Homo sapiens: one gene and its partners. The protein of the gene in region 3 purifies or fractionates together with the protein of the main gene of each other region. This does not show direct contact. Each region holds a gene or a part of one and is shown on either strand. Other genes may lie near its edges.

Region 1 (5,012 bases), on a different chromosome or scaffold from region 3:
GCCACTTACCTGGCAGAAAGACTTCATCTTGTCCAGAACCTTGTTGACCTCTGGCATCACATCCTTGCCGTCTACCAGGATGGGTGTGTTTGACCGGTTCCGCAGAGCCACGTGCAGCACGGCTCGACCCTGGGGATTACGGTCAGGATATAAAGACTGCCCCCCCCAACCCCAGGCAGCCATGCTCCCAGCTGGGCATGGTGCCATAGCTCGGCCCTCTATCCACTAGACAGGCAGGCCCTGAGGTCTCTGTTAGCACCATAACCTTGTTCCAAGAACCCACTGTATGCTTAGAGGAGTAGGAGCTCCCCAAGGACTTATGTGCTGCAGACAGTCAGGAGGAGAGGAGGGGACCCATATATGCCTAGGACAGGCCCCGAAGGCCTGCCAGAGATGCTCAGGGCATGAACAGTGAGAGAAAAGAGGAACAGTGAGCAAAGGCAGAGAATGGCAACAATACATGTCAGAAACAAGCAATAAATGCTTTCAGAGGCCGGGCGCCATGGCTCACGCCTGTAATCCCGGAACTCTGGGAGGCCATGGCAGGTGGATAACTTGAGGTCATGAATTCGAGACCAGCCTGGCCAACATGGTGACATCCTGTCTCTACTAAAAATACAAAAATCAGCCAGGTGGGGGTGGCACACACCTGTAGTTCCAGCTACTCAGGAATCTGAGGCAGAGAATCGCCTGAACCCATTAGACAGAGGTTGCAGTGAGCCAAGATCGCACCACTGCACTCCAGCCTGGGCGACAGAGCAAGACTCCATCTCAAAATAAATAAATAAATAAACGCTTTCCGAAGATGAGTGCTCATGAAGCCTGAAGTAACCTCATCCTCCCAATGTGTGTCCATGGTGTTTGCTGGCACGTTTTAGGCAGTGTCCTCAGCTCCTTGGATTTGCAGCAAGGCATGCAACTCAAGCTTCCCTCACCAAGCAGCCCGATAACTACCAACTGCCAGGAACCAAACCAGACTTGAAGTCTGTGACGGGTGCCAGGCGGCTGGCCCAGCCACGTGAGTGAAATGGCCTGAAGTCAGCAGAGGAGTCCTTGAGGGAAGGTCTAACGACCCCAGGTGGGCAGGAAAAGGATCATCTTGGGATTCCGACCCAGTGAGAGGCTTGCTAAGGTGGAGGGCTTCATGCCACCCCACCCTCACCCTGCCAGACCCCACTCCTGCGCCACATTTTATTGGCAAATGCACTCCTCCAGAAAGCCTTCCTTGATTGCATCCTCTCTCAGCTTAGACCCACAATGCAAGACAGGTTGAGTGTGAATCTCCATTCTGCCTCTTACAGCTATGACATCTTAGATAAGTGATGTGACCTCTGAACCTCAGACTCCTCACATGTAAGAGGAGGATAATGACATCATGAGGACAGAGTCTGGGTGCTCAGTGTCCATTATACCTCCAGGCTGGGCTCCCATACTGAGTCAGGAACAGGGGCCCCCAGGCCTGGCCTCACCACTGCTTCCTATTGACTCCTACTGCTTGAGTAGGCTGAAGTCTTTGGTGATCTAAGATTCTTCTTGTCGCTACTAAAACTTGCATTGAGGATATATTAGAGTTAACTTCTCCAAGAAAATGTCAGCCTTGAGAAACTCTCCCTGTGGGTATGAGATATGCTCCTCCCAGGCAGACACTGGGAACCATTCCAAGGAGCTCACCAAACCAATCTTGTGGAAGGCACACCCCAAAGCCCTGCTACAAGCAGGAGGAAAAAGGCCTTCAGGCCCCTCATTAAGCAAAAGCATTGCCCAAGAGAAGGGGTGAAGACACAGGGTGATGCGGCTAACAGTCAGATAAACCCCAAAGGGAAGGAAGGAGGCCCCAGAGGGTATGTGGGGCCTGCTCACCTCGGTGTAGTTGATCTTCTCACCATTGAACATCCGCTCCCGGGCGGCCTCCACGCCCCTGGACTTGGCCTAGGAAGAGACGATACTGAGGCCTGGTCCCACCCACACTGGCCACCCCAAGTGTCAGCCCCCAAACACAAGGCTTGGTGCTGTCCCCAATGAGACAGACAGACGGCTGCTGTCTGGTTCCCTCCCCTGCTGTCTGGGAAGGGTCTACTCAGACATCAGACACTGGGGTCCCTGGGATGCTGCTTAGAACCTAAGCCAGGGACAGGTGCCTCACCAGCACAGAGGAGGTGACTGAGGTCTAATGAGAGGAAGAACTCAAGATACTCAAGGTCCTGGGGACTCCCAGGAGCCCAGCTCACCCACCACTCTGTCGGTTACCAGTTATGCCTCCCCAAGCAGAACATTACCAAGTCCACCAGCATCCGCATCACGTCCTCCGTCACCAGGTTCTTGGAGTAATCCACCAGGATATGCCCATGGTTGGTGTTGAGGGTCAAGCTGCAGAAAGATGGAGATGCTGCTGACCACACCCTGGTCTCCCTAGCGGGGAGCCATGCCCTAAGCAGGAGCTGTTCCCAGAAGAAACATCCTCCCTGACCCACGCCCCACAAGGGCCGCGGCCACCCAGCACAGTGGTGGTGTCTGTCACCTGCTGGCCCACCAGGATGATCTGCAACAGCAGCCCAGAGAAAGAAGCCATCCTCACAGACCGTAGATGCAGGCAGACCCTGGATGAGGAGCCCGGACTGAAGTGGGGGACCACCCCTTCCCAGGGCTTCCACTTTCTGCCGTAAGTTACTCAGGCACCCATCCAGATGACAGGGATGGCCATCGGGACGTCTAGCCCGGAGCCACAGTCGCTCCCCTCCCCCGCCTCCACCAGTATCAGTGATCAGAGCTCCCTTGGCCGCACTCCCGCCCATGATTTGCTCAAACACTCCTTCCCACTTCCCGGTCGTGCACAGGTGTCTTCTGCAGGAATCACGCCCGACGTCTCCATCCTTCCACCCAGCTCCCTCAAACACCCCCGCCCGGGCTGCCCGCCCTGCAGACGCTCCCAAGCTCATGTGGCCAGGAGCGGATGGAAAGGGACAGCCCTTTCCCGCTTGCTGCGTCAGCCAAGGCCTCTCTTCACAACTGCGAAAGGAGCCCCTGCTCAAATGGCCAGAGCTGCACGGGGAGGAGGAGGGGAAATGTCCCCACGGAGGGGCCCGTTTTTCCTCGTAACGAAGCAGACCCGGGGCCGAGACTCCCGGCGAGGCTGCAAGCCCCCAGGAACGCACTCCAAGGAGACTCCAAGGACGAAGTGCGGACTCGGCCTGGGCCCCAGTCCGTGGCCTGGAGGTCGGGGACTGGGGTCCCCGGGCACCGCTGCCCCCGCCTCCAGACCCCAGGCCCGCGTGCCCGGTTCCGGGCGCCGCGCGTGGCAGCCCCCGCCTCCGGCCCGCCCGCACCTGAAGTGGTTGAAGCGGTCCTTGTTGGCATCGAAGAGGCGGCGCAGGTTCAGCTCGGAGCGGTGCTCGCGGTACCATTGCTGCAGCTTCTGGAACTGGGGGTCCCGGGTGAGAGCGGCCATGGCGGGACTAGAAGGTACACTGAGTGAGACGCGAGCCGAGGAGGAAGGAGCGCCGGCAGCGCGCAGCAAGCGAGGCGCGTGGGCGCGCGGCGGCCTTTATGGCGCAGGCGCCCGGCCCGGCCCGGCCCGGCCCCACCCCTGAGCCCCGGCCCCGCCCCCGACCCGCGCCCCGATACCCAGGCCGGGTGCCCGCTGAGCGACCTTGCCCGCGGCCGCTGATCTGGGGCCTCAGCTCCTCTCTCCCTACCTCTTGCGCCGCCGCTTTGCTGGCCTCTGCCCGGAAGTGGCAGTGGGGAGGGTGGGCAGAGCCCGGGGATCACTGGAGCCCAGGTGTTGGAGGCTGCAGAGAGCTACCATCGCGCCGCTGCACTCCCTGTGCACTAGTCGGCTTCATTCATTCATTCGACAAAACTCTATAGATCGAACACCTTCCACGTTACAGGCAGTGTTCTAGGCGCTGTGGATACATATGTGCCAAATAAGCAAGTACAACAGATGATGTGTGTCTGCTGGTGGTAAGGGCTATTGAGGAAAACCAAGATGAAAAGGGTGCTGAGAATCGGGGTTGCAATTAAGAAAAAAGTGACTAGGCCGGGCGCGGTGGCTCACGCCTGTAATCTCATCACTTTGGGAGGCCGAGGCAGGCGGATCATGTGAGGCCAGGAGTTCCAGACCAGACTGGCCAACCTGGTGAAACCTCATCTCTACTGAAAAAAAAAATGCAAAAATTAGCCGGGCCTGGTGACACGTGCCTGTATTCCCAGCTAACTCGGGAGGCTGAGGCAGGATAATCACTTGAACCTGGGAGGTGAAGACTGCAGTGAGCCACTGTACTCCAGCCTGGGTGGCAGAGTGAGACTCCATCTCAAAAAAAAAAAAAAAGATGAGGTCAGAGAGCAAAAGGGAGGCAACAAGATCACGTAAGACCTTGTAAGTCATTGTAAGAACTCTGGGGCTGGGCACTCCTGCCTATAATCCCAGCACTTTGGGAGGTGGGATAGCTTGACGCCAGGAGTTCAAGCCGAGCCTGGGCAAGACAGCAAAACACTGCTTCTAAAATACTAAAAATAAATTAGCGGGGCATGTGGTGGTGCATATCTGCAGAGTCCCAGCTACTCGGGAGGCCAAGGCAGGAGGATCACTTGAGTCCAGGAGTTAGAGGCTGCCGTGATTACCACCACTGTACTCCAGCTTGGGTGACACAGCAACACCTTGTCTTAAAAAAAAGAAAAGAAAAGAAAAGAAAATAGGGAAAGGCTGACAACAAAAGAAATAAGTGGTCACTGAGGGGTCACAGGACTTTCCAGGGAACAGCCCTGTCCACATGGCCCTTTTCTAAGAACTGTCAACTCTTAAGATTTCACTGAGCTTCCACACCTAGCACAACCCTGGTAGTGCTGAACAGTATCTGTTCTACTGGAGTTCTTTTTTTGTTTGTTTGTTTGTTTGAGATGGAGTCTCGCTCTGTCACCAGGCTGGAGTGCAGTGGCGTGATCTCAGCTCACTGCAACCTCCACCTCCCTGGTTCAAGCGATTCTCCTGCCTCAGCCTCCTGAGTAGCTGGGAC
Region 2 (4,216 bases), on a different chromosome or scaffold from region 3:
CTCCTTGTTCTGAAACAACTTATCAACATACCTTATTAGATTAGCTTTGAGTGTGTGGTTTTCAAGGCGAAAGACCCCACATTACTTTGTTTTCCTGTGTCTGAGGCCGTGGGTGTGGCCTCCCGTGGCTTGGCCTGGGGCTCCCAAGCCAGGCCCTCCTGGTGGGCACACTGGCCCTGAGACTTACCCTGTGAGTTTTGACCCAAGAGCAGGTCATTCCAAAAGAGGGAGTTGTCTTGCTGCTTAGAGAGGAGGGGCCCGGCCGAGCCTGGGCTGGCGGGTGGCACTTGCAGTTTGTCCCTGCCTGGACTGCAGTATGGGAGGCAGAGATGGAGCCAACGCTAATGTCCTGTGTGAATCAACTTAGAGATACAGAAGCACATCACAGACAACTTTCTAGGTGACTATGAATATGAATGACTGGGGTTCCAGACATTTGGGCTCCTAGTGTAACTTGAGTGTTTACTGCCCTATCTATCTAGACAGCAGTAGCATCTTGGGGTCAAAGAGATCATTCAGTTCACATCCCAAACAGAGCTCATCCTGGGGCAGTAGGGGGAGAGAGGCTCTCTCTGTCAAAGGTGGAAAATCTCATCCTTCCTTAGGCCACTACCTCAAGTGGACAATTCTGCTATGACTCTGGGGGAACCTGTCACCATCCACCCTCCTTCCCTTTTATTCTGAGTTTGCTGACATTAAGAGCAGGTAGCACCATCCTTTGAAACAATCTGGATTCCTCATTTTATGGTGAGAGGAACTGAGGCCGGAAGACCAGCTGGATACATAAGGGCAGAGTAAGAAGAGAAGCCGACTGGCAACCAGCTGAGCTCCCTGCCCTTCACACCAACTCCTGTGGTCCCTAGCACTTTCCAGTGCCTGACACTTTTACAGCCAGGCCATCCCAAAACAAATAGGGAATAAAACAGCCCTGAGTCTAGTGAGATTCTAATGCTGGAATCTGCTTGCTTCCTGGAAGGCTCTGTCATGCTTCCGCTACCTCTGCCCAGGGAAGCTCCTGAGGCCCTGAGCACCAAGCTGGGCCTCTGTGGGACATGTGATGGGGAGGGGTGAATGGGCCCTATCAGCCCGCCCCCCACCCCACCCCGGACAGAGCAATCACCAATGAAGCGGAACTCGCTGCACTCGCACTCGATGAGGGCCACCGTCTCAGCCAGCCACAGCAGGTTGTCTTCAGTCACTAGGCTGGGATATTTGGCCACCAGGTCTAGGGGCAGGAAGCAGTAGTGCACCTCCTCTTCTGTGTCTAACAGGGGTGTGTCCATGAGCCCCAGAGGTGCCTTATCATGTAGGCCTGGAAGAGAACATGCAGGCAGTGTTGCCACCTCTCAGAAGCCAGGGATCTGATTCCAGCAGGGCTTTCACTGACCCAGGGGCCCCAGAGGATGCTAGAGAGACCCCCCAGGATATGGTCCTTGCCACTTGCCAGACACATCTTCCTTCTTTATCTTTTCAGTTGTAGCCCTAAGGAGTGTGGTAGGGAGTGGGGCATGGAAGTCTATTTTTTTTTCTTTTCTTTTTTGAGATGGAGTCTCACTCTGTTGCCCAGGCTGGAATTCAGTGGTGCCATCTTGGCTCACTGCAACCTCTGTCTCTCAGATTCAACTGGTTCTCCTGCCTCAGCCTCCCAAGTAGCTGGGACTACAGGCACGTGCCACCACACCCAGCTAATTTTTGTGTTTTCAGTAGAGACGGGGTTTCACCATGTTGTCAGGCTGGTCTCGAACTCCTGACCTCACGTGATCCATCTGCCTCAGCCTCCCAAAATGCTGGGATTACAGGCATGAGCCACCGTGCCCAGCTGGAAATCTATATTTTTTCTATAAACAGTGAAGGGCAGTGGGACATGTGACATTTTGACTTATGTATCCAAAGTCATTAAATTCATTTACCCATTTGATTCTAATTGATCAAACCAAACACAGTGATCCACAGACAAAATAGATGCTTTTGACACTCCTGGAAGCTAAAATCCATCAATAATCATAAATGCTTTGTACTCATGTCTCAGATAGGCTGAACTATGCTGCCAGGCACCCATCAGACAGTGATTATTTAGGGACATTCTGTGTGTGGTGGTTGGAGGAAACTCAAAAGAATGGTGGCATTCCCTGATGAATAGGAGGGAGTGGAATGAAACCTCGCCTTGCCCACATGAAGCCAGAATGCAGAGGAGTGAGTGTGGAGGAGAATGTTGGTTCCAGCAGGCAAGCAGCCATGGAGAGGGCCTGTGGCAGGGCAGAAGATCAAAGGAGATGACAGAGACTGCCTCAGAAATCAGGCACTCTCTGCTCTCTGGATGGAAGCCACTTCTGTTAGGGTGAGGAGAGGGAAAGTTGGTGTGGGCTTTAGGGAGGGACAGCCTATCCCAATTCACCTGTAAAGGCTGGGCTTTTAATTGGAAATTCTGAGGGTTTGCTAATACACTTCCATGTACGCCAGTAGTTCAGAGATGCTCTCTCAGCAACAGGTAGGTCTGCAGGCCGTACGCGTAGATGGTGTTTCCCTTCCTTCAGGTTATCTAGAGTCTGTTAGATAATGAAGAGTACTATCTTGAGAATCTAAACCAAGTAACTATGTACCAATTCTAGTGTGAAGATCAGGAAAAACAGTATGTGACTTACTTTTTTTTTTTTTTGAGACAGAGTCTCGTTTTGTTGCCCAGGCTGGAGTGCAGTGGTGCGATCTCAGCTCACTGCAACCTCCACCTCCTGGGTTCAAGCGATTCTCCTGCCTCAGCCTCTCGAGTAGCTGGGATTACAGGCACCTGCCACCACGCCTGGCTAATTTTTTTTTGTATTTTTAGTAGAGACAGAGTTTCACCATGTTGGCCAGGCTGGTCTTGAACTCCTGACCTCAGGTGATCCATCCGCCTCGGCCTCCCAAAGGGTTGAGATTACGGGCATGAACCACCGCGCCCAGCGACTTACTTTAAGTGTTTTGAAATAAATTAGGCAGTCACACAAAAAATGTAAAAATGTAGGGCTATAGGGTGACATGCTGATATTCAAAGTCCCAATGATTATTTCTCTTCTGATTTTTGAAACAAGTTTTGTTATAATTTTATGTTGAGTAATAGTAATTTATCTTGCACAATCTAAAGAGTAATTTCTATTTAATCATTAAAAACTTGTTATTTTCTGCTATCATTTTCCTTCAAGTGCTCAAAATCACTTTCAACCTGTTATAATTGTGATTTGCTATTGTTTGTGTTCATCCTAACCCTGGGTAGTGATCTAAGTGGTGAGATTGAGGTATAATAAACATGTCTTATATTGCCACAGGACTCCACATTTTTCAACACACTTTAACACACTTTTTCTCATTTACCATGACATGATTCTGTGAGACAGATGTGGTTGGTGAGTGTCTTACTGATGAGGCAGCTGAGGTCAAAGGCTTTGTGGCCCGCCCAAGCAGTCTTCCAAGTCCAGAGCTTGTCAGCTTGAAGGATCAGGCGACCAGAGGTGGGCTGAGGCTGGAGTGGAGCACCCCAACTAGGCAAGCCTGAAGCCCAGGGCGGTCTTCGTGCCGCCCTTACCCAGGGACCCATTCTCCCTCAAAAGTCCTGCAGGGGGCAGATTATCATAACATCAGCACCCCCTCCCTTTTTTTTTCTGTCTTTACGCTAGAAGAAGATACATAGTATTTTCCCAATAAATTTCCGGATATAGCAGGGCAAGTGGTACTTTAAAGGCACCAGATCCTCAAAATGGACAGGTGCCCCAGATTTAGTCTGAAACTAACAAATAATCTGCCTCTAAATGCTGCTATGTCAATGAAGCCCTTGTGACGTTGCTCTCAAAAATCCTGAGCATTGAGACTAGTCCTCTGGTGGCCAAGCTATAAACTGTGCCCGCATAATCACTTAAGGTCAATGCAAAAGAAGGCGGGCCAGAGTGGGAGAATCTTTCCCACTCTGGATGGCTGGAGGGTTTGCAAAAGCACTGGGCAATGGTGGGATCGTGGGGAGTGCTTTCCTGTGGCAGTGAACAATGGGGGAGACAGTGTGTGCGTGGAACGCTGGAAGACAGTCTGTCATTCATTTGAGAAATACTCATTGTGCATCACCAGGGCCACAGTCAGACACTGTGCCTGCCCTCAAGAAGCTCTCAGCTTGGGAGAGAAGAAAGATATGAAAGACCACAATTTACGTATACTGAGATTAGAGCCAGTGTCAATTATGAAGTTTCTGGAC
Region 3 (4,932 bases):
TATACTTTATCATTTTCTCTATCTCTATGCAGGGAAATAATAGAAATCATGGTCCTAAGCTGACATTTCCATCTACTACATTCACCCAATGGACAATTCCCAATATTCACAAACACATTTGGACTTAGGCTATGGCAAATGCAAAAGAGATTGGACAAAAAACAAAAACAGAAACAAATTAAGTCCTTACTCCTGAAACGTTGAACTCCAGAATAATGAAAAAGCTGTTATCAGAACAACTACAGTCATAACCTTCAGATGTTACATCTAACACCAAATCATTTTTCTCAATAGTGATAATGTCTTGATAACATGGAAATATTCTAATTATCTATAGCTTAGTCAACCAAAATTCTCTCAATAATCTCCCAGTTAAAAATATTTCCTTACTTCCTATAAATAATTTATGAGTAAAAGTACTGCATAATGTTTCAATAATCATCACATGACCACCAAAGATATTTTTTCTTCTTCAATAATTCAAATGATTGTCACATTTAATACTTACATTAAATATTGAAAGGAATTTAGCAATTTGAAATGCAGTAATTAAAATGCATTAGATAGCTTTAAAAAATAAAGTTCCAAATACTTTACTCATAAATATATTTAAGAAACAACTAGAATTAGTTGAGATTCAGTGGAAGCTGAATGTAAGCTAGAGTCTTCTTGCTAAGTTTTCCTAAAAACTTATAATTGATCAATATGTTCAAGAATATCACTTTAAAAATTCTTGCTTTTCCCAATTTTACCTGCTTTGAAAAACAAACTTTTAACTACTTCTGCTTTTAATTCCCAAATCTTCCAAAATATTTTATTTTTCCATAAATTAAAATGCTATGTCAACTGAGTGTGAAAACCTTGATTCTGTAGCTCAGCTTTAGCTTATTATTATGGATAAAATGTATACAGTGTTAACAGTTATGTAACTGACTCTGGCTTTTATTCCCATAGAAACTGAAAATGAATTACTAAAAGTGGTATATACTGATAAAAGAGTGCTTAAATTAAAACATCCCATATTTGGTAATCTGGCATCAGTTTCCAGAGATGTAAGAATAAAGTGACAGCTTGGCAGCTAAGCTGTTAGAAATTTTTTTATAGGTTTCAGCTTAGGCCTGCCAGCTATATTTCTAGTTGCTAATAATTCTGGCTCTATATTGAGTAAAATTCTTCCTTAGAAGAACCAAAGAAAACTATGAATAAATATCTTATTGGTTTTTATAATTACATGTATATAGTTTAAAGTACCGAGTAAACTGTAGATACATCTGCTGAAAATTACTATTATAAATACTAGCACATTCCATAGTTAGGGGAAAAAAGTTGACCATAAAGACTTATAATACTGAGAAAAAAATAGCATTTTAACAGAACGTAGAGGTTATTTTCACTAGCATCAAGTATCAAGAAGATAAGCATTTGGTAAAATAATTCTTTTTCATGTAAATACTAGAGAAACAAATTTTTTGGTAAATTATATGTTGTTGACAAAAGACCATATCAAATCCACCATAGAGAGTATATTAAAAGTACTGCATTATTTGAGGGAAATAATCAAGAATATAAGCAAAGTGAAACTAATACTGATATTTTCATAATCACTTTAATATAGACATAAAACCAAATAAATCTAGAAAGATATTTTGGTCTCTAATAATCTATAAAATAATATTTAAGTCAGGCACATTAAACTATGTCAAAACACTATCTTTTGGTACTTGTACTTTTAAAACAATTGTTTTATATAAATTGAAGATTCCTGCTATTTGTTAAAATTCATGCAAGTAAGACATAATTAATTTTTGTGTTTAAGTTACATAACCATATATTACATGTCATTTTGATCATTTATTCCAACAAGAAGTTGATGTGATTTAGTATCTTTCAAAATAGCCAGTAAAGAAATTTTCACTATCAAAAATCATTAGATGAACCACAGCATACTTATCCTCACCAGACTGATGATGTGTGTGGTGTCCAGATGCCTCAACAGACTGCCTTTGTTCACTGTCTGGAGAAGATAGCAAAGGAGTAGAATGAGGGCTTTCTGTGGGAGATGATGTCGAATGAGCCTGAGCTGACATTGTAGAGGATGTAGAAGGCTGAAGAAATTGTTCAGCTGGAGTATCTACTTCCATTGCAGTTTCACTCACTTCCAAATCAGGACTTGATGGGACCGTAGGAAGAGTTGAAATATCTGATTGACTTGTTCCACCTTCAAAACACATGTTAAGGCAAATTCAAATTTTAAATATTTTCTAAAACCAACAACTCTAAACAGATATGCTCAGAAAACACATTTATATTTACACACACAAATATATAATTTCAGTGATAATAACTACTGGTGATTTGGCCCATTTGACAAAATAGGCCAGTCAAGAGGGATAAAAACTTATCTACAACATATTCTTGTTAAAGCAATCAATCTTTCCTATTACATAAAACTTGTTTATACACAGAATTTTATATATTTCCATTCTCAGAGTGCATTAAAAAAAGGCTTAAAATAGGAAACCTCAGATTCTTCTACTTTACTTTGAGAAAAGCAAAAGATACGCACTAGGTCCAATGGCACCAGAAGGGACAAATTATATCCAATATCTTTTATTCTCTACTACTTCACACCACACAATAAGAACCTTGTGATTATTACAGATGTAAAACATGGTATAATTTACATGATAGAAATAAAAACTGGCTTCAATAAGTAGTTTTTGCCAGCTTTCTGATGACTTTAATTAACATTAAAAATTACCTCTGGGTCGAGATCTTCCTCGTCCTCTATTGCTTTGTGCAACCTCACTTGCTTCTTCAAACCATCTTGATAACATATCAGACATTCTCTGCATCAATGACACATTGGGACTCTGCTCTCCTATTACAATATAGGTCTTATCAGTGAGTTTAGTAATAAGTCAGAATCTTTCATTAATACAAAAACCTAGATTTGAAGGGCTTTAAAATGAAAGCATATTTTTAAAAATCAAATTTCCTAAATAAATTGTATGAATGTATATAAATCTATTAGAGCTCTCATCACATTTTATAGTAATTGTTTATATCAGTGACTTTCCATGTGTATGGTAAGGTTTCTTGAGAACAGGGCTCACCTCTCCTTCATCTTTGCCTATTCTTAGGTACCACTAAACCTCCCACTTCCTACCTCAACCTAAATTTTTAGTTCTAAGAGTACCCAGCCAAGAAAGGCTCATGAATTCTAAGTTTAATAGATTAAAAGAAAGGTTTTCCCTCTCCCTAAAGCATTATAATCAAGTACAGACACAAAATAGCCTTATGCTTTTGCATGAAGTTTCCTTAAAGTCAATTTATTTTCAACATCATTTACTGTAAGCAAATTTCAGATATTTGAAATTAACTGGAACCAGAAAGTATTTTGTCTCTTCCCTCACTCCTTTTCCTCCTGCAAGTAAACAAGTTTTTCCAAGGGTATTTTCAAATTAAAAGTGTAATGTCAAATTCAAAATGTGACAACTCTATTCTATAGTCTTATAATTTAAAATGAAAATCGGTTCTTCTTACATTTTCTGTGAAATCAGAGTTTCTTTTACACTTTATTGCCTTTATATAATGTAGCTCATATATTGGGGAATATGCTTTTGATCACAAGAGATGTTTCAGAAGTCATTATAGTAAGATTTTGGTTACAGACCAATTTAATAAAACATAATAATATAGAATTATAATTCATAGATTAATTCTATTTTCAAGTGTGCTATCTTAAAGCTCCCAGGGTTGATTCTTATGCTTATCAAAGGCACTTGATAGAAAACATTTTATGTGCTAATATAAAACCCTTGGGCTGAGTTTTCATTTCTCTTAATATCTAATAGAAAGGCAAAAACTGCAAAGTCTGACAATACCCAACGTACTATGGGGTAATGGGCATTCTTATACTTTCAGTGGGAATGTAAATTAGCACATCTTTTTTGGAGACTAATCTGATAACAACTACCAAAATTAAAAGGTACTTATCCAGTGACTGCGCCATTCCACTTCTAAGAATTTATCCTAAGATATATTTGCATAAGTATACCTATATGTATAAGAATGTTCATTACAGAATAATTTATAATAGTGAAGAAACTGGAAGTTAAAATATTAATTTTAAAATACCATATACAAAGAAAAGCTGACCAAAGTATAGTTACCATCTCGTTCTCGTTCACTCTCCGGCCTTGCTCTGGGTCCAGTATCTGACCAATCACCACGAAGTCTCAAACGCTTAACTGGTGGTTGTCGCAACTAAAAAATAAGAACGGGTAAATTCTATGTAAGTCTAAAACTCATCTACTCTCAACTCTTAAAGCATACTTTATGTCTATTTATTTCCATCTCCCTACTTCTTGAGTATGCAAATTAGATCTACATGAAAATATGAAAGACACTGGTATAAGCGTCAGTCTTTTAAAGCATTCATTCTGAGGATAAATATCCACTGATGTTGACAGCCTATATCTAATATCTTCAACCTAAAGAGCCTGAATGCAACTTTGAAATCATGTATATGTGATTTCTAATCCCACCTGTATCACCTTCCAGCTGACAAAAGGAAGATATTTTTAACCATCTTGAGCCTTAGTTTTCTATTGTGATGATAAATATAGTCTAGTTAAATTACCCACATACCTAATTAACAATGGGAACCATCATTATTTTTATTTATTATTGACAATTTACTCATTATTGACAATTTACTCTTCGGTTCCCAAACAGAATCTATTGCGACCCTTTATGACTTGCCTCAGGCTATCTATTCCATCCTGCTGCCCTCATTCTTGCCCTCTTAACAATTTTTCCTCCTACTTCAGAGAAAATAAAAATAACATCATTTTCTTCAGCTGAATTCTATAAATTAAATCTACATCTACAACTTTCTAACTCCTTCCAGCCTTTCTTGAAGGGTGT
Region 4 (4,216 bases), on a different chromosome or scaffold from region 3:
AACATTTCAAGACAAATTACTTACTGTTCTACTGTATATCTCCATTTGGGTGTCACACAGGCTCAAACTCAATCTACCCAAACTGAACTCACCCCTTTCTTCCCATACATACATGTTTCTCCTCCTGTGTTTCCCCTCAGTAAATGGTACCACTATCCACTCACAGTTGTTCATGTTAGAATTTTGGGCATCATTCTTCACATCTCTTCCCTGTCCCCTCCTTCTCTGAATATCCCATCACCAAATCCACTGATTCCACTTCTTATAAAAAGCACCATATATCTATCTGTCCACTTGTATCTCCCTCACTGCCAGTTCTCCAGTACAGGTCACAATGATCTTATGTCTATAGATCATTTTAACACTCTCTGGGATCTTACTCCACTGCAATACATTCCACACTGTGGCCACAGTGCTCTTTCTAGATGGTATTATCTGTTCAAAACCCTACAATGGCTCATCCAATGCCTCAGTCTCTCTCACAAGGCCTATTAGAACTGCATGATCAGAAACTCCTGCCATTCCCATCTTACATCAATTCTAGTCAGACTGGACAATTTTCATCCCATCCAATAAGCCACGCCAAGTTTATCAAGTCTTTGCATCTGCTGTTCACACTCTAGATGGAAAGCTCAACTAACCAATTCCCACGTTACATTCCCCATTAAGTCTTCTGCACTCCCCAAATCCCTTCAGGTACCATGCCCCCCGTGATGCACTTTGCATTTTCCCTATTATAGCTATTAACATATTTTATGGCAACTACATTATTTGCTTCTATATCCCATTAGACAATCTTATTTATTGCCATATTCCCAAAAACATAATAAAAACAGGTCCACAACCTCTTATCTGAAATCCTAAGATTCCAAAAGCTATTTTAATTTTTAATTTTTTTTAAGATGGAGTCTCGCTTTGTCTCCCAGGCTGGAGTGCAGTGGTGTGATCTCAGCTCACTGCAACCTCCGCCTTCTGGGTTCAAGCGATTCTTCTGCCTCAGCCTCCTGAGTAGCTGGGATTACACGCATGTGCCACCACGCCCGGCTAATTTTTGTATATTTAGTAGAGACGGGGTTTCACCATGTTGGTCAGGCTGGTCTTGAACTCCTGACCTTGTGATCTGCCTGCCTCGGCCTCCCAAAGTGCTGGGATTACAGACGTGAGCCACCGCGCCTGGCCCAAAAGCTATTATTATAACAAGTTTTTTTTTTTTTTTTGAGACGGAGTCTTGCCCTGTTGCCCAGGCTGGAGTGCAGTGGCGCGATCTTGGCTCATTGCAACCTCTGCCTCCCAGATTCAAGCCTCAGCCTCCCGAATAGCTGGGACTACAGATGCCCGCCACCACGCCCTGCTAATTTTTGTATTTTTAAGTAGAGATGGGGTTTCGCCATGTTTGCCAGGCTGGTCTTGAACTCCATACCTCAGGTGATCCGCCTGCCTCGGCCTCCCAAAGTGCTGGGATTACAGGCATGAGCCACCTCGCCCAGCCCAACAAAGTTTTTCATTAAGTTGCTGTCAAAATGTGGTTGGTGGGATAACCTAGCCCAAACTGACTAAAGGCTACTTATAGTCTTTATTTCTCCCTTCAGTATAAATATTCATATTTTACTGTAGAAATATTAATGTGTTCAATTGTAAGTTGTTGTCTCAGACCCTGCTATAGAGATGTTGGTATATGCACTGCCTTGCTTTTCTTAAATCCAAACAATTCTCAATCCCAATGCATATCTGATCTTAAGGACTTCATATTAAGGTTTACAGGCCCTACAGTATTTGTTTTCAGCAGGAAAATTTTACAAGTAGGTTACATTATGGAACAATGATGTGTGCTTTGTGAACAGGCAATATCTAAAAGAGTTGAACAGAATAGGATTCTTCTGAATGTCTAAATTTGGCATTTTTAAGTTTGAAATACAGATTCCACTTATGCTTGTCTGTGTAATAAATATTCTCTTTCTCATCTACAAATACCCAAATATCTGCAATTACGGAAAAGACAAGGGAAAAGAAGACAAACTAAATAGACAAATGAAAAGTACAATCTCCCTTATGTTAAAAGGGCCATGGATCCAATGGTGATTAAGTAAGATCACAGAAAAAAAACCTGAAACGACAGGTACGCCTGGATATAGAACTTCATTTTGGATATATGACTTTTTGGTTTGTTTGCTTTTTGGAGACAGGGTCTCATTCTGTTGCCCAGGCTGGAGTGCAGTGGTGCAATCACGGGTCACTGCAGCCTCAACCTCCTTAGCTCAAGTGATTCTCCCACCTCAGCCTCCCAAGTAGCTAGGACTACAGGCATATGCCACTACATCCAGCTAATTTTAAAATTTTATTTTGTAGAGATAGGGTCTCCCTATGGTGCCTAGGTTAGTCTCCTGGGCTCAAGCAATCCTCTTGCCTTGGCCTCCCAAAGTGCTGGGAGTACAGGCATAAGCCATTGTGCCCGGCCCCTAAATTAATATTTTAAGCGAGTATTTATATTATCCATAATTGTAGTTTACTTAAACAAAAACTTATGTACAGACCAAGTCTGCTATCTAAATTTGGTGAGTATCACAACCATTTGGGGACCCCTTTGAAAACATGGATTCCCTGACATTAGCTTTGGGGATGCTGATTCAATCAGTGTGAGAAGAGGCCTAGAAACCAGTATTTTCCAAAAGCAGCCAGATTTGGCACCACTGCATTAGGAGATTAAAAAAAAAAAAAAATCAAAACACAGATTCTGACCTGTGTCTACCACAAAGACACATGCATAAACAAAGTAAAAGGTGAAAGTGCCATGTTCAGATAAAATTCACAACAGGTTTTATGGGAAATTGTTTCTACTTCAGATCAGATTATATTTCATCACTTGACCTAAATGACTTCACAATTTAATATGATACATCAAAACAGAATTCTGAAAAACTTAAATTCTTACCTAAATTGGCATACATTACAAACAGGTTGAAATACTGCTGTAAATGACGCCCATGCTCTGAAACTTCCCTTCTCAAGAGATTTAGTACTGCTCTTAGTAAGTGATCACTCAAGCTTAAGTTGTCATAAGCCTGTAAAGGATAAAACATTACCTGTTTTACAGCAACAAGGTATATGTATACTTCTACTTGCATAAAAAGGACATGCACATATGCTGATACAGGCATACATTTATGGAAGGACTGATCACACAAACTAAACTATTTTGCTTCTTGGGAAAGGGAATGAAGATCAGAGGCGGATTTCATTATAATTTTTTACACTTGTAATTTTTTAAAAAAATCTAAGACTATTTAAAAAACCTTCAAAATAGGAAAAAATCTACTTAACAGTAAACTTATAATTAAGCTACTGCATGTAACCGAACAGAGAAAATTCTCTTACATTTTTAAAGAGCCAATAATTACTATTCATTGCCATGCAGTAATATTAAATGGAACTCACTGACATCATATTGTGTGTTTCTGTTAGGTAAACATATCAAGTGGATGCACATATGCTTGTGACTTCGACTTCCAGGAAACACAATTTATTTGTAAACATCTCATCATTTAGAAAGAAAGCTGTGCAATTACCTGACTAGAAGGTCCAGGAGAGGCAAAAGGTGAAGGACATGGCCCATCTTGCAAGGAAAAATGTGCAATAAAGACTATAAGTTTTGCAAACGCACCCCTCACTTCTGCACTAGGGCACTCCAGAAGGTATTCGGAGAAGCGATTTGAAACATTAAAAAGGACGTTATGAGCAAACCAAAAACGTACATTCTTGCTGTGACGAAGGAGAATACACAATGCATCATACCTAAAATAAAACAAAAAAACCTATGACTATTAAGTCAATAACTTGTTCTCTATAGTAAAAGGATGAGTCTCATTGAACCAAAAAAAAAAGACAAAGATCTTCCTCTACTGCTGGAGAGAACCAGCAAAGGTTGCTTCTAATATTAAAACAATAGATAAATACTATGACTTGGTCTATTCTCTCAGAGTTACCAAACAGGTGAAAGCTTGTCCTCTAAAAATCCATTAACAAACTCTTCCTAGATTCAATGACAAAATACCACCCCCTTATCTTGACATATTCCTGAAATGAGTAAGTAAAAATTATTAAATCAATGTATCATAATGGCCTCTATACTTTCACAATTAGAAACTTAAGAAAACCATTTTAATTTTTTACCCTTTTAATCGGTGTCAGAATTCAATCTAGGTAAGCTAAAACCTAATAA

What was found.
Region 1: the proteins of DCAF6 (region 3) and GPI purify together in Homo sapiens (affinity purification with mass spectrometry, with the first as the bait; one large-scale study listed by BioGRID). This does not show direct contact.
Region 2: the proteins of DCAF6 (region 3) and KCTD19 purify together in Homo sapiens (affinity purification with mass spectrometry, with the first as the bait; one large-scale study listed by BioGRID). This does not show direct contact.
Region 4: the proteins of DCAF6 (region 3) and USP9X purify together in Homo sapiens (affinity purification with mass spectrometry; 2 studies listed by BioGRID, with this or other methods). This does not show direct contact.

What each region holds. Positions count from the first base shown.
Region 1 is NC_000019.10:34,363,700-34,368,711, reverse strand, and holds the start of GPI (glucose-6-phosphate isomerase), read right to left. Parts: upstream 3,517-5,012; 5' UTR 3,453-3,516; coding exon of another isoform or gene 3,446-3,452; coding exon 3,324-3,445; intron 2,368-3,323; coding exon 2,277-2,367; intron 1,930-2,276; coding exon 1,861-1,929; intron 130-1,860; coding exon 10-129; intron 1-9. UniProt on the Homo sapiens protein: In the cytoplasm, catalyzes the conversion of glucose-6-phosphate to fructose-6-phosphate, the second step in glycolysis, and the reverse reaction during gluconeogenesis.
Region 2 is NC_000016.10:67,302,026-67,306,241, forward strand, and holds part of KCTD19 (BTB/POZ domain-containing protein KCTD19), read right to left. Parts: intron 2,547-4,216; coding exon 2,396-2,546; intron 1,313-2,395; coding exon 1,121-1,312; intron 1-1,120. UniProt on the Homo sapiens protein: Transcription regulator which is essential for male fertility and for the completion of meiotic prophase in spermatocytes. Regulates progression of the pachytene stage of meiotic prophase and promotes the transcriptional activation activity ZNF541.
Region 3 is NC_000001.11:168,001,819-168,006,750, reverse strand, and holds part of DCAF6 (DDB1- and CUL4-associated factor 6), read right to left. Parts: intron 4,270-4,932; coding exon 4,176-4,269; intron 2,882-4,175; coding exon 2,762-2,881; intron 2,219-2,761; coding exon 1,958-2,218; intron 1-1,957. UniProt on the Homo sapiens protein: Ligand-dependent coactivator of nuclear receptors. Enhance transcriptional activity of the nuclear receptors NR3C1 and AR. May function as a substrate receptor for CUL4-DDB1 E3 ubiquitin-protein ligase complex.
Region 4 is NC_000023.11:41,217,945-41,222,160, reverse strand, and holds part of USP9X (ubiquitin carboxyl-terminal hydrolase 9X), read right to left. Parts: intron 3,790-4,216; coding exon 3,564-3,789; intron 3,060-3,563; coding exon 2,930-3,059; intron 1-2,929.